2 separate regions of the Homo sapiens genome follow, and region 1 is linked to region 2. The links come from fine-mapping of genetic effects on gene expression. A gene starts in region 2. The other region holds a variant in brackets. All regions are shown on one strand. Distances are from middle to middle.

What was found.
Region 1: its variant is fine-mapped to the expression of ANGPTL1 in skeletal muscle (GTEx, PIP 0.96).

What each region holds. Positions count from the first base shown.
Region 1 is chr1:178,940,576-178,949,878 of GRCh38, forward strand. No RefSeq gene overlaps it. Among named protein-coding and RNA genes, the nearest start is that of ANGPTL1, 74 kb to the left of the region's middle. RefSeq lists a silencer at 2,105-2,305 and an enhancer at 5,713-6,498. The variant A/G (reference allele first, on the strand shown) is at 5,279.
Region 2 is chr1:178,867,408-178,876,710 of GRCh38, forward strand. It overlaps ANGPTL1 (angiopoietin like 1), which reads right to left and starts at 3,670. Exons shown (of 6, transcript NM_004673.4): 1 at 3,334-3,670; 2 at 1,707-1,816. All of the region lies in intron 8 of RALGPS2 (Ral GEF with PH domain and SH3 binding motif 2), which reads left to right.

The sequences.
Region 1 (9,303 bases), 73 kb after region 2:
CTGAGGCCTGGTCCCCAACCCCCAGCGATTCTGATTATATTGATCTAGGGCACGCCTGAGCACCAAAAGTTTTTTAAGGTGTTATACTCTATCTTATTTATGTATTTTGTTTTTTGTTTGTTTTTTGAGATGGAGTTTCACTCTTGTCACCCAGGCTGGAGTGAAATGGCACAATCTCAGCTCACTGCAACATCTACCTCCTGAGTTCAAGCAATTCTCCTGCCTCAGCCTCCCTACTAGCTGGGATTACAGGCATACGCCACCACGCCCAGCTAATTTTTGTATTTTTAGTAGAGACAGCATTTCACCATTTTGCCCAGGCTGGTCTCGAACTCCTGACCTCAGGTGATCCACCTGCCTCGGCCTCCCAAAGTGCTGGGATTACAGGTGTGAGCCACCACACCTGGCCCCTAATTATGTTTTTTAGAATTAACGTGCAGAGAAAAAAGATTTGGAAGAACAGTCACCAATATGTTAACTATCTCCAAGTAATAGAATTGAGAATTTTTATTCACTTATGTATTCTTCTGGGTGTCCTGAAAAATTTTTTGCAGCAAAGGACATTTCAACGAAACAAATTGATAGTATAAAGGAGGGGAAATGCTATTTTCCACTTAAAAGGAAGGAAGTTCAGGATACTCAAAATAGAACTCTTCATCTCCCTCCCTAACCTGACTCTCTTCCTGCATCCCCAGTTCTGAAAATAGCACCAGGTTCTCACCAGCCCACGTCCCACAGGCATCCCAGCCTCCTACCTTCCCTAAACCCATTCATCCAATTACTTACTAAGTCTCCACATGCAGCTTCCTTCATACTTAAATTTCCTGACTCCTGTTCACACAGGTGCCACGCCCACTGCCTCTCAGTTTGGGTTTCCACTACCTTGCTTGCTACCGATGGGGCTAGGCTGGCTCCTCAGCATGCTCTCCGCCTCCATGCGGGCACCCTGCAGCCGTGGTGATCTTCCCTGAAACCCACATCCGCTCCTGCCACGGGCCTGTTAAAAACCTGCAGTGGGGCTGGGCGCAGTGGCTTATGCCTGAAACCCCGCACTTTAGGAGGCCAAGGTGGGCGAATTGCCTGAGATCAGGAGTTTGAGACCAGCCAGGGCAACACGGTGAAACCCCGTTTCTACTAAAAATAAAAAAAATAAATTAGCTGGGCGTGGTGGTGCATGCCTAATGCCAGCTATTCAGCTATTGAGGCATGAGAATTGCTTGAACCCGGGAGGCAGAGGTTGCAGTGAGATCGCACCACTTCACTCCAGCCTGGGCGGTACAGCAAGACTGCCTCCAAAATAAATAAATACGAATAAAAACCCGCAGCGGCCTCCTCATTTCCAGAGCACACTGGAGCAACTTGCATGGCTTCCAAGGCCCTCCGTGATCCGATCCTGCCCACCTTCACAGGCTCCGGCCTTGCAGCCCTTGCCCTGCACCCTCCCACCCACCATGAGCAACAGCTGGAGGTCCCCCCCCATGCATCATTGTCTCCCTGACTCAGAGCCTTTGCCTGTGCTGCTCCCGTGCTTGGAACGCCCTTGCCTTCCCCATCCTGTTTCCCCCGGGTCACCCCTGCCACTTTACCGGCTCCTCAACACAGTCTCTTGCGTGCTCCTGCATGCTTTCACGCCTGTGTCTTTGCTTAGCGTTGGTGATTCCTCTTGTCTTTGTCTGTCTCCCCACTGCTGTCTGACTTCCTCGAGGGCCAGGAGCTTTCATCTGTGTCCAGGCACTGCCCATACTGCCTAGCATCTCCTAACCACTCAGTAAGCGAGTTAAGGACTGAGTGGATAATATTGATTCTTTACATTCATGCAGCTCTTTATGATTTTTCTAAGTACTTTCTTATGTGTGTTTGCGGTTGGGTTTTGTGCCCCTGAACTTGTTTTCAGCAGTATTGCCTGCACCATCTGCATTCTCACTTGAGGCTGGCAGACAGGAGAGGTGGTGAAAGTGAGGTGCAGCATGACCCGGAGGGGTCCTGCTGCCCAGGTCACACAGCTGGTGCCTGGAAGACCCAACAGCCCTCCGTCTCCGCCTGTGTTCTCCCCCGCACCCCATGTCTCCCATATGCTGGCTCCACTGCGCTGGATTTGGAGACTGTGCTGGATCTGGAGTCTGCACTGGGTAGTTGCCCACAAAGAGATGGAGATTGTCAGCCACTTCAAATCCTGGCTTCCCCCTTTTCCTGTCATGCTTTTAAGCCAGGAGATACAAAGAGGAAACCACAGCTCTTGAGATGAGCTACTCAAGAGCATGCAGTCTTCTACCATCAACATTTTCTAGAGACGAAGCCGACTCAGTTTGTGTGGATTTCGCCTCTCTGGAGGAAACACAAATTCACTAATCCCTTCCATTTTAATCAAGCCTGGGAGGGAAGGGCTGCCAGGGGATCCTTTCCAGAACGTAGTCAGTGGGGAAAATGCAGAGCCCCTGCCTTCTGACTCACCGGCCAGCAGACCACTTCCTGAGACGGTACATGAGGCAATGACTGAAATTGTGGCTGTGGCTCTGCCAATCAGCCGGATTCGGGAGATGTTTCTCTGAGGTAGAATGACATTAAAAGGGCCCTGTCCCTGGCACATCTAAAGTGATCCTCACCTGAGCCTTTCATTCAGTCTCACTCAGAGAGGGCTTCTCAGCTACTCTCCACCCAAGCAGGGCCAGAGGTGCACTTTCACTACCCTTTTCCCGAGAAGGTACCAGGGTGGGGGTGGGAGAGACTGGGAGGACTACCCCCCATTCCCCGATTTCTGCTCAGATTATCCTACAAGCTAGAGTGTGAAGCCCTGGGATAGACACTGCCACCACAAGAGCAGAAAGTCATACAGCTGAGCTCAGTAAACTCTTAACCAGCAGCTACCATGTGCCAGATATTATGCTGAGAGCTGATCAGATAGGGATAAATTAGACATGGCTGGCCAGGCGCCTCACGCCTGTAATCCCAGCATTTTGGGAGGTCAAGGCAGGTGGATCACCTGAGGTCAGGAGTTTGAGACCGGCCTGGCCAACATGGTGAAACCCTGTCTCTACTAAAAATACAAAAAATTAGCCGGGTATGGTGGCAGGTGCCTGTAATCCCAGCTACTCCAGAGGCTGAGGCAGGAGAATCGCTTGAACCCAGGAGACAGAGGTTGCAGTGAGCCGAGATTGCACCATTGCACTCCAGCCTGGGCAACAAGAGCAAAACTCCATCTCAAAAACAAAAACAAACAAACAAAAAAATTAGACATGGCTCCTTGACCAGGCAAAAGAATGCACACATATACACAACCAATATGTCCAGAAGATAGTGAAGAGAGGTACAAATCAGGTGCTGTGGAAGTTCAGGAAAGACTGTTTCCAGTTGAGAATTCGAGAAAGGCTTCTTGGAGGAGCTGGCATTATTTTAGCTGGAACTTGAAGTGAGGGTAAAATTGGGGCAGAAAGAATTATTGCTTGAGGGTTTGGGGGGATGGGGTGGTAAAGATAGTAAAGGCTTCTCAAGCTGCAGTATCTGTGATTAGGTTGACTCACATGAAATTGCTGATAGTCTATCGGTATTGACCTACAATAACACCAACTTCAGATGGTCCAACATCATACTTCCTGGGTACAACATGGAAGTGGGAAAACACCACTTGTAGAGAAAAACCCAGGCCAAAGAAGTTCAATGTCTGTCAGCAACTGGTAAACTTACACTAATTTAACCTTTTAATAATGTGTTGACAGAGATTGTCTAGGGATGGCATTTTCTACTTTCTCAAAACAGGACTAGGCCGGGCACAGTGGCTCACGCCTGTAATCCCAGAGCTTTGGGAGGCCAAGGCAAGTGGATCACTTGAGATCAGGAGTTTGAGACCAGCCTGGTCAATATGGTGAAACCCCGTCTCTACTAAAAATACACAAATTAGCTGGGCGTAGTGGCGGGCACCTGTAATTCCAGCTACTCAGGGAGCTGAGGCAGGAGAATCACTTGAAACCGGGAGGCGGAGGTTGCAGTAAGCCGAGATTACGTCACTGCACTCCAGCCTGAGTGACAAAGTGAGACTCCATCTCAAAAAAAAAGGATTGGTGTTATAGTTTGTCTATTGTCCAAAGACCAGTTCTATTAGTCTGTCCTCATGCTGCTAATAAAGACATACCCAAAACTGGGTAATTTATAAAAGAAAGGGGTTTAATCGACTCACAGTTCTACATGGCTCGAGAGGCCTCGCAATCATGGTGGAAGCCAAAGGGGTAGCAAGACATGTCTTATATGGCAGCGGGCAAGAGAGCATGTGTAGGGGAACTCCCCTTTATAAAACCATCAGATCTCGTGAGCCTTATTCACTATGATGAGAACAGCACAGGAAATACCCACCTCCATGATTCACTTACCTCCCACCGGGCCCCTCCCATGACATGTGGGGATTACTACAGTTCAAGGTGAGATTTGGGTAAGGACAGAGAGCCAAACCATATTACCAGTCCAAGTGAGACTTTGCACTTCACAACTGGACTGAATTTACAAGTCACAGGAAGGCAGTATTGTACCCCGAGTCCGAAATATTTGAGTCTACATTCCAACACCACTGCATATGAACTGTGTGATCAGCTTCATAACTTTCTGAGGCTTGGTTTTCTCACCTGGAAAATGATGACAAAAATAATACTTCCCTTCCTCACAACGTAGTTGAAATGATTAAATGAGATGGTGCCTGTACACTGCTTAACACAATGCTGGCCTATAGGCAGCACCCAGTAGCTGTTTGCAGGGTCATCATTTATGTCAAGAGCACAATGAGCACTGAGGGATGACCCCATGTCCACGAGTCACAAAAAGAGTTGCATCTTTGCGTCTTAGAGCCATAGTGTGTTTCGATGGAGGCAGCAGGACGGTCGCCTATTTGAGCACCTATTTTAGTCTTAAGTAGAAAAGGGAGAAAGAAGATACAAGAAAATATGTGATGCTTGAGTTTCTCAGGTTAGAAGGACAAGAAGCTCCACATGATCCCATTCAGCCATTTAGTTGCTTTCAGCCTCAGAGCAAACCTTCTAAGGAATTTCATATTCCCAGGTCTCTCCTGGCAGGCACGCCTGGCTCAGAGGTAGATTTTTTTTTTTTTTTTTTTTTTTGAGCAAAAGGGTTTCTGCAAGGTACCAAGTCAACCACCCTGGAGTGGTTCCCAGGAAAGCAGTGGTGATGGCTTGGGCACCAGAGGCTCGGGAAAAACAGGTGCTCGGCTTTCCAGGAAAAGAAATCTTGGCCACTCAGAGGGGAATCTGAAACCAGAGAGGTAAGGTAGCTGAAGCGC[A/G]TGTCCCAACCAAGCCTGGGACGGGCCAGGCACCTGGGCAGGACTCCTCTCTGCTGCACCAGGCGGGCGTGGACGCTTACTTTCTTGGTTCCCGAAGCACTCTCCTGCTGGGGATGGCGACAGTGACCACCCTTAGGAAGACTGGCTTGCATCAGTACGGATTTTTAAGCAATACACAGCATTCTAAAGTCAATAGGGTTTGTGATGGGCGCTGCTCCGAGTAAGGAAGCGGGTGTGAGGGCACAGTCTCTGGCAGCCCCTCCTGACTGCTGCCTGTCCTTGGTGAACCGAGGGGAGGCAGGGCGTGCAGGGGCCGGCTCTGTCTTTCGGTTCCCAGGGCTGACTCAGCAGGCATCTTCCCCTGTGTTTCTCTTCATCTTCCCTCCCCTCCCTTCTAACAGGAGTTGGTGGAGCTGAGGGCAGGGACAAGTTTTAAATGCTCTGGGATGGCGCCGTCTTTGGGAAAAGAGAGCCTTGTAAAAGCCCCGAGAGCAGTTCTCTCTGCAGCCCTAAAAATTTTCCCTGCAGCTTGAATTTTTCATTCAAGTCACCATTTCCAGTCCTGCCGACAAGTCAGAAAATGGCTCTGACCGGGAGCAACAGCAGAGACAGAGGGCGGCCCAGAGACAGCGTGGTCTGATGCAGGGACACCTTGGAGCCATCCCAGAGCCCTGGGGACCAGTTCACGCTGTGATATTGGTTCCTCCCTCCACAATAGAGGCAGGCGCAGGCCAGAAATCCTGCCACACCGGAGTGGAGCTTCAGGCCTCAGCACATGAGGGGTCTTCTCTTTAATTCCCTGTCATCCGCACGCGCCCCCTGCTGCCCCTCACCTCGCCTCATCCAGGGAAGCTCTGCAGACTTTTCCCTCTAACTTCAAAGACGGCATCAGCCGCCACTTGGTCCCACCATGACTGTCCTTGAGGCACAAAACTACCAGGAGAGATTAGTTCTGCAGAAGCTGAGAGAGGGTCCGGTCCACACCAGGCTCTCCTCATTCAGAAATGAGTGAATGTGCAGGCCCAACTCAAGGACCTCAAACTGTAGGGGAGAGGATGGGAGGGGAGCACAAGGAGGGGCCCCATGGGGTCAGACACCTTTTCCTAAGGTGTTCAAGCACTGTCTGTGCTGGCAGCAGCCCCAGGAGGTGATATTTCAGTTGAAAACTGGAAAGGAGCCAGGGTAAGGGCAGTGTATTTGCAGAAGACCAGGAGGTAGAAATTGTGACTGCTTTGGCATCTGGGTGAAAACAGGAAGTAACACAAAATGAGCCTGGAAAAAGGATGGGAGCAAGATCAGAAATGGACTCACGGTTGGGCACAGTGGCTCACGCCTGTAGTCCCAGCAGTTTGGGAGGCCAAAGTTGGAGGATTGCTTGAGGCCAGGAGTTTGAGACCAGCCTGGGCAACATAGCAAGACCCCATCTCTACAAAAAAAAAAGTTTTAAATTAGTGAGGTGTGGTGGCACATGCCTATAGTCCTAGCTACTCCAGAGGCTGAGGTGGGAGGACTGCTTGAGACAAGAAGTTTGAGGCTACAGTGAGCTCAAACAGTAGAGTACAGTAGAGCCACTGTACTCTAGCCTGAGTGACAGAGCGAGACCCTATCTCTAAAAAGGGAGAAAAAAAAGAAAAGAAATGGCCTCATATGTGGTGGTGTGCTGGTCAATGTTTAACAGGCTGTGGACAGGGGGTGGGGGGGGCGAGTGCTGATTTGTAATGTTTGTACCAGTTTCTGTGGTGTTAATATTAGAATACCTCCCATTGTGGTTGACTTCACTCTACCAATGGTTTAATATCTGGCTCACCAAAATTCCTGCAAATTTAACAATCAACTTGCAAGCTGATAAGGGCTGGCTCGAACACGCCTGCATCATATGTCACCTGTTACCTTTTCACCCACTTCCTTGTCACAACATCCCTAAGCAGTCCTTGGAGGGAGGGGAACCACATTAATGAAGTCACTTCAGGCTGTTGCCACAAGTATCTCAGTCTCACTCACCTCCCCCTGCCCATGGCTGTTCCTTCTTTCTGTCCCTCATGGATGCAGGCATGGACATTTTTCCTGGAGTTTCATAAAAACCACTCACGTAAGGCATTTATAGTGTAGCCAACTTATAAAAACAAAGAAGGTTCACATCACAGCAATGCTACTCACATCAAATGAAATATTAAACACCCTATTAAATTTTTCCTTGGCCATTGACACAATCCTGGGCTTTGATCTTCTGCCATATTGCTTTTCCCCCATGCTCTCCAACCTTGGTTGACCCTTTTCTCCTTGACACTCCCCTCAAAATGCTTCTAGTCCATCATAGAGAGCAATGCGGCCCTCCCTAGCCACCTCCGCCCCAAGTCCTGTGTCCACCCTCTCCAACCTTGATTGACCCATCTTCCCTTGACACTCCCTCAAAATACTACCATGGAGAGAATGTGGTCCCTAGCCACCTCCACCTGGTACACAGTCCTGCACTGTTCATGTCATATTCAAGGCGCTGCAAATCTGTAGAATTCCCAGGCATGGAGAGGAATACCAACTACTGTTTACACCTGGCTCAATGCCCATTTATTAATCTTATGCATTTTTAACAATCATCACTCCTTAAACTATGAACATTACTCTAAATATTCACACACTACATAGCTAGTACATCAAACACGTATTTCAAACAAGGTCCGATTTCACACCTATTAGAATGGCCAAAATCCAAAAACACCAAATGCTGGCAAGGATGAGGAGCAACAGGAACTCTCATTCATTGCTGGTGGGAATGCAAAATGGTACAGCCACATTGGGAGACACTTTGGCAGTTTCTATAAAACTAAACATACTCTTTCTGTATGACCCAGCAATCATGCCTCTTGGTATTTACCCAAATAAATTGCAAATTAATGTCCATTTAAAAAAAAAAACCGCACACAGATGTTTACAGCAGCTTTATTCATAATTGCCAAAACTTGGAATCAGCCAAGATGTCCTTCAGTAAATGAATGGCTAAACTGTGGTATACCCAGACAGTGAAATATTATTTAGTGATAAAAGCAAATGAGCTGTCACGAAAAGGCATGGAGAAGACTGCAAAGCCCATATACTGTATCATTCCAACGATATGACATTCTGGAAAAGGCAAAACTATGGAGACAGTAAAAAGAACAGTCGTTGCCAGGGACTAGGGGTGAGGGAAGGATGAATAGATGGAGCACAGAGGATTTTTAGGGCAGTGAAAATATTCTGTGTGATACTGTAATAGTGGATACATGTGATTATACATTTTCCCAAACTCATAGAATGTACAACACCAAGAGTGAATGGTAATGTAAACTATGGACTCTGGGTGATGATGCCGCGTCAGTATAGGTACCACTGTGATTTGGGAAGTTGACAGTGGAGGAGATTGTGTGTGAGGGCAGGGCATATATGGGAATTCTCTGTATTTTCTGCTCAACTTTGCTGTGAACCTAACATTGCTCTACAAAATACAGTATATTAAAAAAACAAAATTGGCCGGGCGCAGTGGCTCACGCCTGTAATCCCAGCACTTTGGGAGGCTGAGGTGGGTGGATCACGAGGTCAGGAAATTGAGACCAGCCTGGCCAACATAGAGGAACCCCGTCTCTACTAAAAATACAAAAACTAACCGGGCGTGGTGGTGCATGCCTGTAGTCCCAGCTACACAGAAGGCTGAGGCAGAAGAATCACTTGAACCTGGGAGGCGGAGGTTGCGGTGAGCCGAGATCATGCTCCAGCCTGGGCAATAGAGCGAGACTCCATCTTGGGAAAGAAAAAAAAAAAAATCATGACCAGGTGTGGTGGTTCACATTTGCAATCCCAGTACAGGACTTTGGGAGGCCGAGGCGGAGGGATCCCTTGAGCCCAGGAGTTTGAGACCAGCCTGGACAATATAAAAAAGACCTCATCTCTTTTTTATTTTTTGTTTTAGTTATTTATTTTTTTCAGACAGAGTCTCACTCTGTCGCCCAAGCTGGAGTTTAGTGGCACAATCTCAGCTCACTGCAACCTTCACC
Region 2 (9,303 bases):
TTATGTAGCTTAACACATGTTAACTATTTGCATTTATAACACTGAAGTAATGCTGTATCATTTTATAAAGGAGGAAAATCCTTGAGAAGCTAAATCACTCAAATGGGATTCAAACCTTCTACTCCTAACTTTTCTAGACCTATGATTTTTACCCTAGTCATGTCATAACCACAGAGGAGTCTTAAGTTTATGTTTCTTGTTTTTCGCTGCCTTTTCCTGGTTTATGTCCCTTTTCATTGACCGGTTACTTAATTATGCAAAAGTATTTATGGATAATTTTTGGTAGAATTTGTGTCCACGTTCTGCCAGATCATTTTTTTACATCTCAGACTCTTCTGCGGCAATTTCTTTCCTTCTGTATGTATTCTGTCAGCTGATAGTTATATATCTAACCTATGATTATGGACCCCTCCCGAAAACAAAGGTCATGTCAATGAAATATAACTCTTATGCTGTCGTCATGAAGACTACTGCTACTTTCACTTTCTAAAACCATGTTCCTTTTTTGGTATTTTTCAATTGAATAGTGTCTTCAAAATGGGTAGATAATGAAAATAAGGCAAATATAGATGGAGTATGGAGAATTATTATTATTTTACTAACAAGAGAGGGAATGAAAACAAAAGATAGGGAGGACATAACAATCTGTATTTCTATCGAGGCCTTCTTTTGCTGACTGATAGCCAAAGCACACATGGGTATTTTTTTTAGCTTTTTATGTTTTCATACCTTGCTTTCTGACATATATAGAAAATTTAGAAACAGTCATCTATTTTATTTTTAAAAATAGACTTTTACTATGTAGGAGTTACCTATACCAAAAACCAATAAAACATTTATTATATCTCCAGATTCGTGGAATTTAGATATGGGTTATTTTAAAAACTAGGGACAAGAAATAAAAGCCATCATCCTCCTGGGCACATGCATATCATTTTTCCTATATATTTAATTTAACTTACCACTGCTAAAGTCCATTCATTTTAATACTAGAATGGAAACTCTGAGATCATAAAATTATTTTACTTAAATAATATTTACTATGAAATAAACTACCAAAACAAGGAAAATGCAGGAAGTAATATAAAACTCTAAAACAAATAGAATTTTATGAGCAATATTCTGATTGAACAGCTTGTATTAATACCAGACACAGATTTTTATAAAACAGCTAAAAGCGCATCATCCAAGACTGCTGTTAGGACTTTGCATCAGTGTTGTCATTGAAGAACAAAAAACACCAAAATGCTAATCTAAATTAAAACAAAAACAGCTTCCTTGTGTGTATTCTGCCTTGGCTCATTGTGGTTCCTATAAGATTAAATCATAAGATAAATCACTGTTTACCATAAGAGAAAGTGGTCTAAATTAGCATTTAAAGGAGGCAACTAAAAGTTTAGTTTTTAAATAAATATAATTTTTTTTTAATAAATACAAAAGTATTGGCTTCACTGTCACTTAAAGCAGGGCAAGGAGCCACATTTCTTAAGTAGTAGACTAGCTACGTCAGGAGTAAAGAACTGGTTTTAAAAATACATTTACTGTTATGTTTTCTGAAAACATTCTCTTATTTAATATTTTCTCACATATGTTCAGTTTTGAAGCAAAAGATCCATAAATCTATGTTACCTCATAAAACTTTCTGTATATGTTAAAATTTTCCTAGGCCCCAAGAGAATGTTATAAATTAGTTATAGAATACTTACGTTTAAATTTAAGTCTTTACTTAGTTGTTTTTAGAAGAGAAAAAAAAGTCTTCTATGCGTTGGGTTAATTTTATTAGTAGCTTTTCTCTTCATAGTTGCTATATTGCCAGCTAGTAGAGAGAAGAAACGAAAGTCAGGATTTGCCTCCTTTCAGATGGTAAACTCACAGAGGCATTTAACTGGCTGTGTCATGCACTGAAAACAGCATGAGGCAATGAAGTTAAATTTATGAAGCATTCAGGATATGTTAGATAAAGAATTTCTAGATTGTGAAATATGTTCTGGGAAGAGACTTGAGAACAATCTAATCCCCTGGATATATTTAAGAAAAGGATAAATAGTTATCTGTGTAATTTGGGGTTCAGATTAAATGCCTGCCTTAAGACAGCGTCAGTAAGAACTGAGGCTTAATGAAGTCCTGCACTTCCCATAGCATGCAACAACAAAAAAGAGAGATGACAGTATTTCAGATCCACTGTTGCTTGGAAATTTTGTTAGAATTTCTTGTAAAATATGTGTTTAACAGAAATCCTGCCAGCATTTACAGTTTTAAATCTTTAAGGAAAGGACACAAAAGCAAAGTTGGAAAAAATTTTAGCTTTACCATTATTTGCTTGTTCAAGATTCTTAACCATTAATATCTTTAATTTTTACAAGGCTAAAGGAGCCCCAAATCTAACAAACTTAAGTGTCTTTGGTTTAAGGCATACTATTGGTAACGAGTAATTTTATCTTTAATAGTTTTTATAATGCATGTAAAAAAAGCTCCCAGATAGAATATTGAAGGAAACCTCTTATGTGTGCTTAACAAAATTATTTCTACCTAAAATATTACATATTTTTGGCCTTTTAGTCATGAATTTAATTACATCTTCTGGGTTCTTATTTTCTATTGTTAATACCACTTACATAATGCTTTTGTGTGTATATCAATAACTTAGCTTTTCCAAGTGATTCCATTTGTAGCAAGTTTAATTTCTGTCATCCAAATTAAATTACTATTACATGTAAGCCTGGAAAGCTATTTAAAATTTTGAGTTGGAACAAGAAATGCCATAGATTAATCTTAAATCTGTACAAGAATTTCTGCTTAATATTTGGTTATACTGTAATTGAGATTTTGTTGCAAAGACTTTCAACTATTTTTGTATCTTAGCTTTGTTTTATGACTACACTGAGAAATCCAACAGTTTATGTATATCTTCAGCACACACACTGTGGCTGCAGGAAGAGAAACTAATTGTGTTCACGACTATTTAGTTTGTATTCCTTTGTTTTTAATCATTGTGCTGTAAGCCTTATACATTTAATCTGTTACTTGTTAAAATTTCTTTCTACTGTCACTAAAGCACTTGTTTTCAGAAACCCAGCATGGCATGCATGTATCAGTCTGTAATCATATACACTAAACATCATTAAATTGAACCTCAAATAATGCATTAACCATTGCACAGTACTTAATGTTTTTATGTCAAGTTGCAAGATAAAACCTTTTTCAGATGAGATAAACTGTAGTATATTCCAAAGGTCTTTGTTTAGTAAAAGATTCTGAAATTTCTACTACAAATATAAAATAGTTATGCATTTGCTATACATAATATTTTTAAATAAAAGAAATATTAAATACCTTTTTGTGTCTGTTGATTCAGTGAATCCAGAAACTTGCTGCCCTTATTCTTGATTTTAAAAATCAGTGTAGAAGTTTGTTCATCTGTGACTTTAATGGCAGCTGCATTTTTGTTTTGGACCGTTGAATCCAAGCTGTAAGAAGGAACTTCTTTTTCCTTTTACAATACTAATCAATTGAATTTGACAAGCCACCTATGTAATTTTAAGTAGTATAGTGGAAGTTCTGGTCTGTGGGCCGTCTTTAATCCAGCAGAGAAAGCGTTGTGGCTTTGCTCTGTCTGCCACATGGAGAAATGCAGTAACCAGCTGCAGCTGACCCAGATTGTATATACAGTACCCCTGAATAGTGATTCCCTCTTTCTCAGTAGACTCAAGTTCAGCCCACATATTACATCACCAAAAATTGCTGGAGACTGGGGGCGGGAATCTCCTTAGGATTTCCTCTTTGTAGCCTTAAATAGGGGGGTGGGATCAGCAGGAGGTTGAATAGTTTTGAACAAGGAGAGATTGTGTGCAGGTTGAAGGAAGGGCACCATCTGGAAACAAACTATCATAGTTCAGCGGGCAATTATAAAACAAACATTTTAGTCTGCTGGCCAGAGATCTTTTAAGTTGAATACCGAAAAAAAAAATAGTGCTCCACTTCACTTAGAAGTAGTTGCAGGCTGATGAGTTTGGTTTTTGTTAACAAAGAACAAGAGCTAGACTTTGTCAGGAGGCAGCCACCTAAATAATGTAATAAATACTCTTTATAGCCTAGAAGAATTTGTAAACATTTTACTAAGTTGCTAATGAAGGTTTTAAACTTACAAGAAACTTGATGTTGTTGTAGTATGTTATGTCTTACTGTGTAATGTGTCTTAAGATAAAACAGCCTTTATATATAATTACCAAACATAAGTGAAATTCTTTCAGATGCTTAAGACTTTTAAATATTACATTCTGGTGTTACATAATGTCATATCCTCCTATTCTACAAAATGACCTCTCCTCTCTGTAAAAGGTCATTCTTGTTATTAATTGATGTGGTGTGGTTTAAAAACAAACATAACCCTGAACTGAGTAAAAAACAAGGAAGCTCTGACTCTATGCCAGCTATGTGAACTTAGACAAATCACTTTACCTGCCTCTGGCAAGGTTCTTCTGCTATGAAATAAGGTGGTGGAAGAAATGAATAAGTGTTGAGTACAACTATACTATTGTATTTCATTAATTGAAGAAATGTTAAATAACTCAGTAGCTGAAGAAACACAAACTTAGGCTTAAGTAACTTAGCTTAGCACTTAAGTACTAAGTAGTGGAACTGGGATTTGAATCTAATGCCAAAGCATTATGCCACACTCTCTGTCATTGATTACCTAGTTGCTGTAAGCTGCTTCTAGATAAAACTTTTGGGCTTTCTCTACATACCTGTGCTTTCCCTTCCTTATTGCTGTAGCTTGTGCTGTGTTTCTCTTTCTGTTAGGCCACACTGTTGATCCACATCCTTTATTTAAAGTCTGAGCTTATTTTCTACCTCTTTCACAGAATCATTTATTTGAATTCCTATGCCATATATAGGTATACCAGAGGTTGCAAACACAAGGGCCTAGAAAGGCAAATGCTCACAAGAAGAATGGAGCAGGTAATATAAATCAGTGAAGTAAATCAGTAGTAAGATACTGGAGGGAAATGAAGTTTATGGCAAGTTGGCATCCTTTTGGTTAATTTAAAGGGATCTGCCTGCACCTTCTCAGCTGTGCTTGTGGCCATGAAGGATTATGAGACAGTGTTGCCAGATCTTCCCATTATTCAGGAAAAAAGAGCCATTTAGATTTTTCCTGTAATACTTCCTGATTTTAAAAAACATTGGGACAGATGTGCTGCCAGCTTCTGGCCTCTGATTTGTATTATGTATCGTTTCTTGAGCATTCAGTAATTATGTTGTAGTCACTAATGGCTTAAATCTGGGAAAAATAAGAGATAATAAATTCTTTCTGAGCTTTTAAACTTTCAGCAGTTTGGAGCTTTCTAACTTGAGCACTTAGTAATATCACTAGCCAGGGTAGGAAATTGGAATGACAGGTATTTAGGGACAGATTATGGTTAGATATGTTAAATTGAAAATGAAAGTCAGGAGCTCAGTTATATGGAGAGATTTGAAAGTCACCAGCAATTAGGTAGTAGCTAAAGCTATGGAACTAAGATACTAGAGAAAGTACATGTAGAATGTAAAGGAAGGTTAATGACAGACCATGATACCAATTTCCAGGAAACCAGCTTACAAGAAACATGAGGAAAAAGAAGAATGGTGGGGGCTTAGGGGGAAGATACGAAAGTTCAAGGTAGGGAAAACCTGAGAACTAGACGAGAATGGTTACAATACTGCAGAGACATTACATAGGGAGGGGAGACCAAGAGAGATGTTTTAAGACTTAGAATGAGAAAGTTATTAATGCCATTGCCAAAATAAGTGATACATACAGATTTCAGATTATTTAGTGTGTTGAAGGGTGACTAGATAAAATTTAACTGACAAATTAGTGTCCACAATACATTAAGAAATTAGAAATCCATAAGAAAAAGACAACCCAAAAGAAAAAATGAACAGAAACATTTATTACATAGAAATATATACGTTTAACCTTATTACTAATCAAGGAAATAAAAATTAAGACACAGAGAGATACCATTTTATACTCAGAAGATTGGCAAAATTGAGATGGATAATACCAATTGTTAGCACAAATGTGGATCAACAGAAGCTTATATACCGTGAGTGGGAGTATGAATTGATACAGCTTTGAAAAATAATGTGACACCATCTTGTAAAGTTGAATATTAATATACTTTAGCACTTGGCAGTTTTGCTCCTAGGCATGTTTGTATATCCTGAAGAAATTTTGTACATGTGTACTGGGAGATGTGTATAAGAATGTCTATAGCAACATGGTTGGGGGTGGGATGGGAGTAACTCAAAAGTCTATCAAATAAAATGGATGAGTTACAATTGTCACACATTAGCTTGTTCTCATTATAAGGAATTACAGCAGCATTTAACAGCGTGGACAAGTCTTAGAAACAAAATAGACGAAGCAACCACAGAAGACCATATTTTTAAATTTTATTTAATAAATGCTTATAAATCACTTGGTATGTACTAGACACTTTTTTTTTGAGACGGAGTCTTGCTCTGTCACCCAAGCGGGAGTGCAGTGGTACGATCTCGGCTCACTACAAGCTCCGCCTCCTGGGTTCTCGCCATTCTCCTGCCTCAGCCTCCCATACTAGACACTTTTCTAACATTACAAATACTATTATTTAATCCACACATACAATAAAATATGATTTTTAAAGCTCAAAAATAGGCAAAAGTAGGAATACAGACAAATGTCGGGGAAAAAATAAGGGAATGATCTTAAAGTTCAAGGTAATGGTTACTTCTGGACAGGAAGCAAGGAGATGAAGTAGAGAAGGAACATACAGATAGATGCAACAGTATTGATGATGTCGTAGTTCTTTTTTAAAGTAGTTTACCCCAACATATTAAAATATTAACATGTAACCAATAAAAAAGTTAATAGATATTTTACATTAATTTTTCATGTTAACTCTTCAAAATCTTGTCTATTTTATATTCAAATACACCTCAATTCAGAATAGACCCACGAAACAGTAGTCACATGTGGCAAGTGGTTATATTGGACAGCACAGTATAGCGAGTGACTACAGGCGAGTTGTCATCTGAGTTTAATAAGATGGAAGAATGGCAAGAACTGGCACATTAGTACCCCGCTCAAATCCCACTTCTTCCTTGAAGCTTTCTCTGATCCCATCAGCAAGGAATGACATTTTTTTGCACAGAATTCTTATGAAACTCCTGTTTAAACTTTTCTGTGCTACTTTTTTATATCTTCTATTGCTGTTATTGATGTACATATGCCAACATCCCCGTGCCATTTCCTTGAGGAATCTTTTAGCTCTCCTTAGGGATGTTGTAGTCATAAGTTGACTGGTCTTTCACAAATGTTTATTATGTTGTTTGATAACAACAAGTGTCACATGTGTTGATAATTTTTTCTTAGGGCAGGAGTCTCACCATGTTGCCCAGACTGGTCTCAAACTCCTAAGCAGTCTGCCCGCCTCAGCCTCCCGAAGTGCTGAGATTACAGGCATGAGCCACCGTTCCCGGCAATAATTTTTGTGAAATCACGATTCTCACACAAATATGAAATGAATATGTGTCAGAATTTTCATTTAAATTATTAAATTTATAAGGGAATCAAAAATGTGTCAAGGGAGAATTCAAAGTAACACACATATATGCAATCAGGAACGCTGAAGTAAATTTACAAATAGTTGCAAAATTGGTCATCACTGATTAGATCCCACTGGACATAATTCTTTGGCATGTTTATGGACAATAATTTGTATTACCAGTTTTCAACAGCTGTGCAGAGTTGTAAAATAGCTCAGAAGGACCAAATGGGTGCACTGGAGACAGGATACCCAGTAATCTTTTTTCCCATCTCAAAGTTTTTCACAATTTTCCTGACACATGTGTATCAAATATTACATTAAAAATAGAACGAAGAATAAAAGAAGTGTACTATTGTATGTTTCTCTTCCAAGGTGTTTGTTGAAGGGAGGACAAGGATGTTATCTTGAGGCGTGGGATCAGATTTGAAGGAAGAGTTGCTTAGATTTTGTTTTATAAGTAGGGGAGATTTAAACATGTATATTGGGCCAGGTGCAGTGGCTCATGCCTGTAATCCTAGCACTTTGGGAGGCTGAGGCGGGTGGATCACTTGAGACCAGGAGTTCGAGACCAGCCTGGCCAACATGGTGAAACCCCATCTCTACTAAAAATGCAAGAACTACCCAGGCGTGGTTGCGCATGCCTGTCATCTCAGCTATTCGGGTGGCTGAGGCACAAGAATCACTTGAACCCAGAAGGCAGAGGTGGCAGTGAGCCGAGATCGCACCACTGCATTCCAGCCTGTGACAGAGCAAGACTCTTTCTTGAAAAAAAAAATGGTTTAAAAAAAAATATGTATACTGGCTCTGGGGAAGGAGCCAGTAGGGGTGAATGATAGTAGAGGCAACAGTGGTTGTCTGGAAGGAGGCAGCAACGATTGCATTCAAAATTACAGTTGAGATTTCGGAAGAAGAGAGAGATGATTCTTCCTCCAAGATTGGGGAAAGTGGGAAGAACCTCAGCTTCATTTGGAACCTCAAGATTCATTTGGAGTCATAGGGAAATAAAGTTGAGGTTATCTAAAGAAAAAAAAGTATGATAGGTGACTTAAAGAATACTGTAAAGATTTACTGAGTGGAAAATGAATGATACTAGGATGAGTAAAAAGATTGCCATGCCAACCTTTTATGTTAAGCACCTATTGTCAAAACATTGCACAAGATTTTCTTTCTCTTGGAGTGCAAGATAGAGCAACTGCCTTAAATGAGTTTGCAGTCTTGAATAGATAAGATATAAATGTAAAAAAAATAAGTAATGAGATTTTGAAGTCATAAAAGTCATTAAGTGAATAGTAAGCACACATAATGTATGATTTTTTAATAGAATATAAGTAATTTTTTTTTAAATTGGGCTATAAGTGAAACGTCTGAGATCCAGCTGTCACTAACAGGTTGCATGGCATTAGACAGGTCCCTTTACTATCTATGTATTTCAGGTTCTTCATCTATAAAAGGAGAGGATTAGACTAGACAGTGTCTGAATTCCTTTCTTGGAATCTGTGAGAAAACTAGAGAATATTGACACCGAATTAGATAAGCAAAATATAAGATTTGGATAGGCAGAGATAAGTCCAGAAAACATTTTAGGTATAAGAAAAAGCTGAGTAAAAACAGGGTTTATTTAGAAGGCAGTGGGTATGTCATTTTGGTTGCATTTACCCTGAGAGTACATGAACATGAAGTAATGGGGTAAAAGTAGGAAGGTATGTTTTTCTTTTCTCTCCAGCTATAG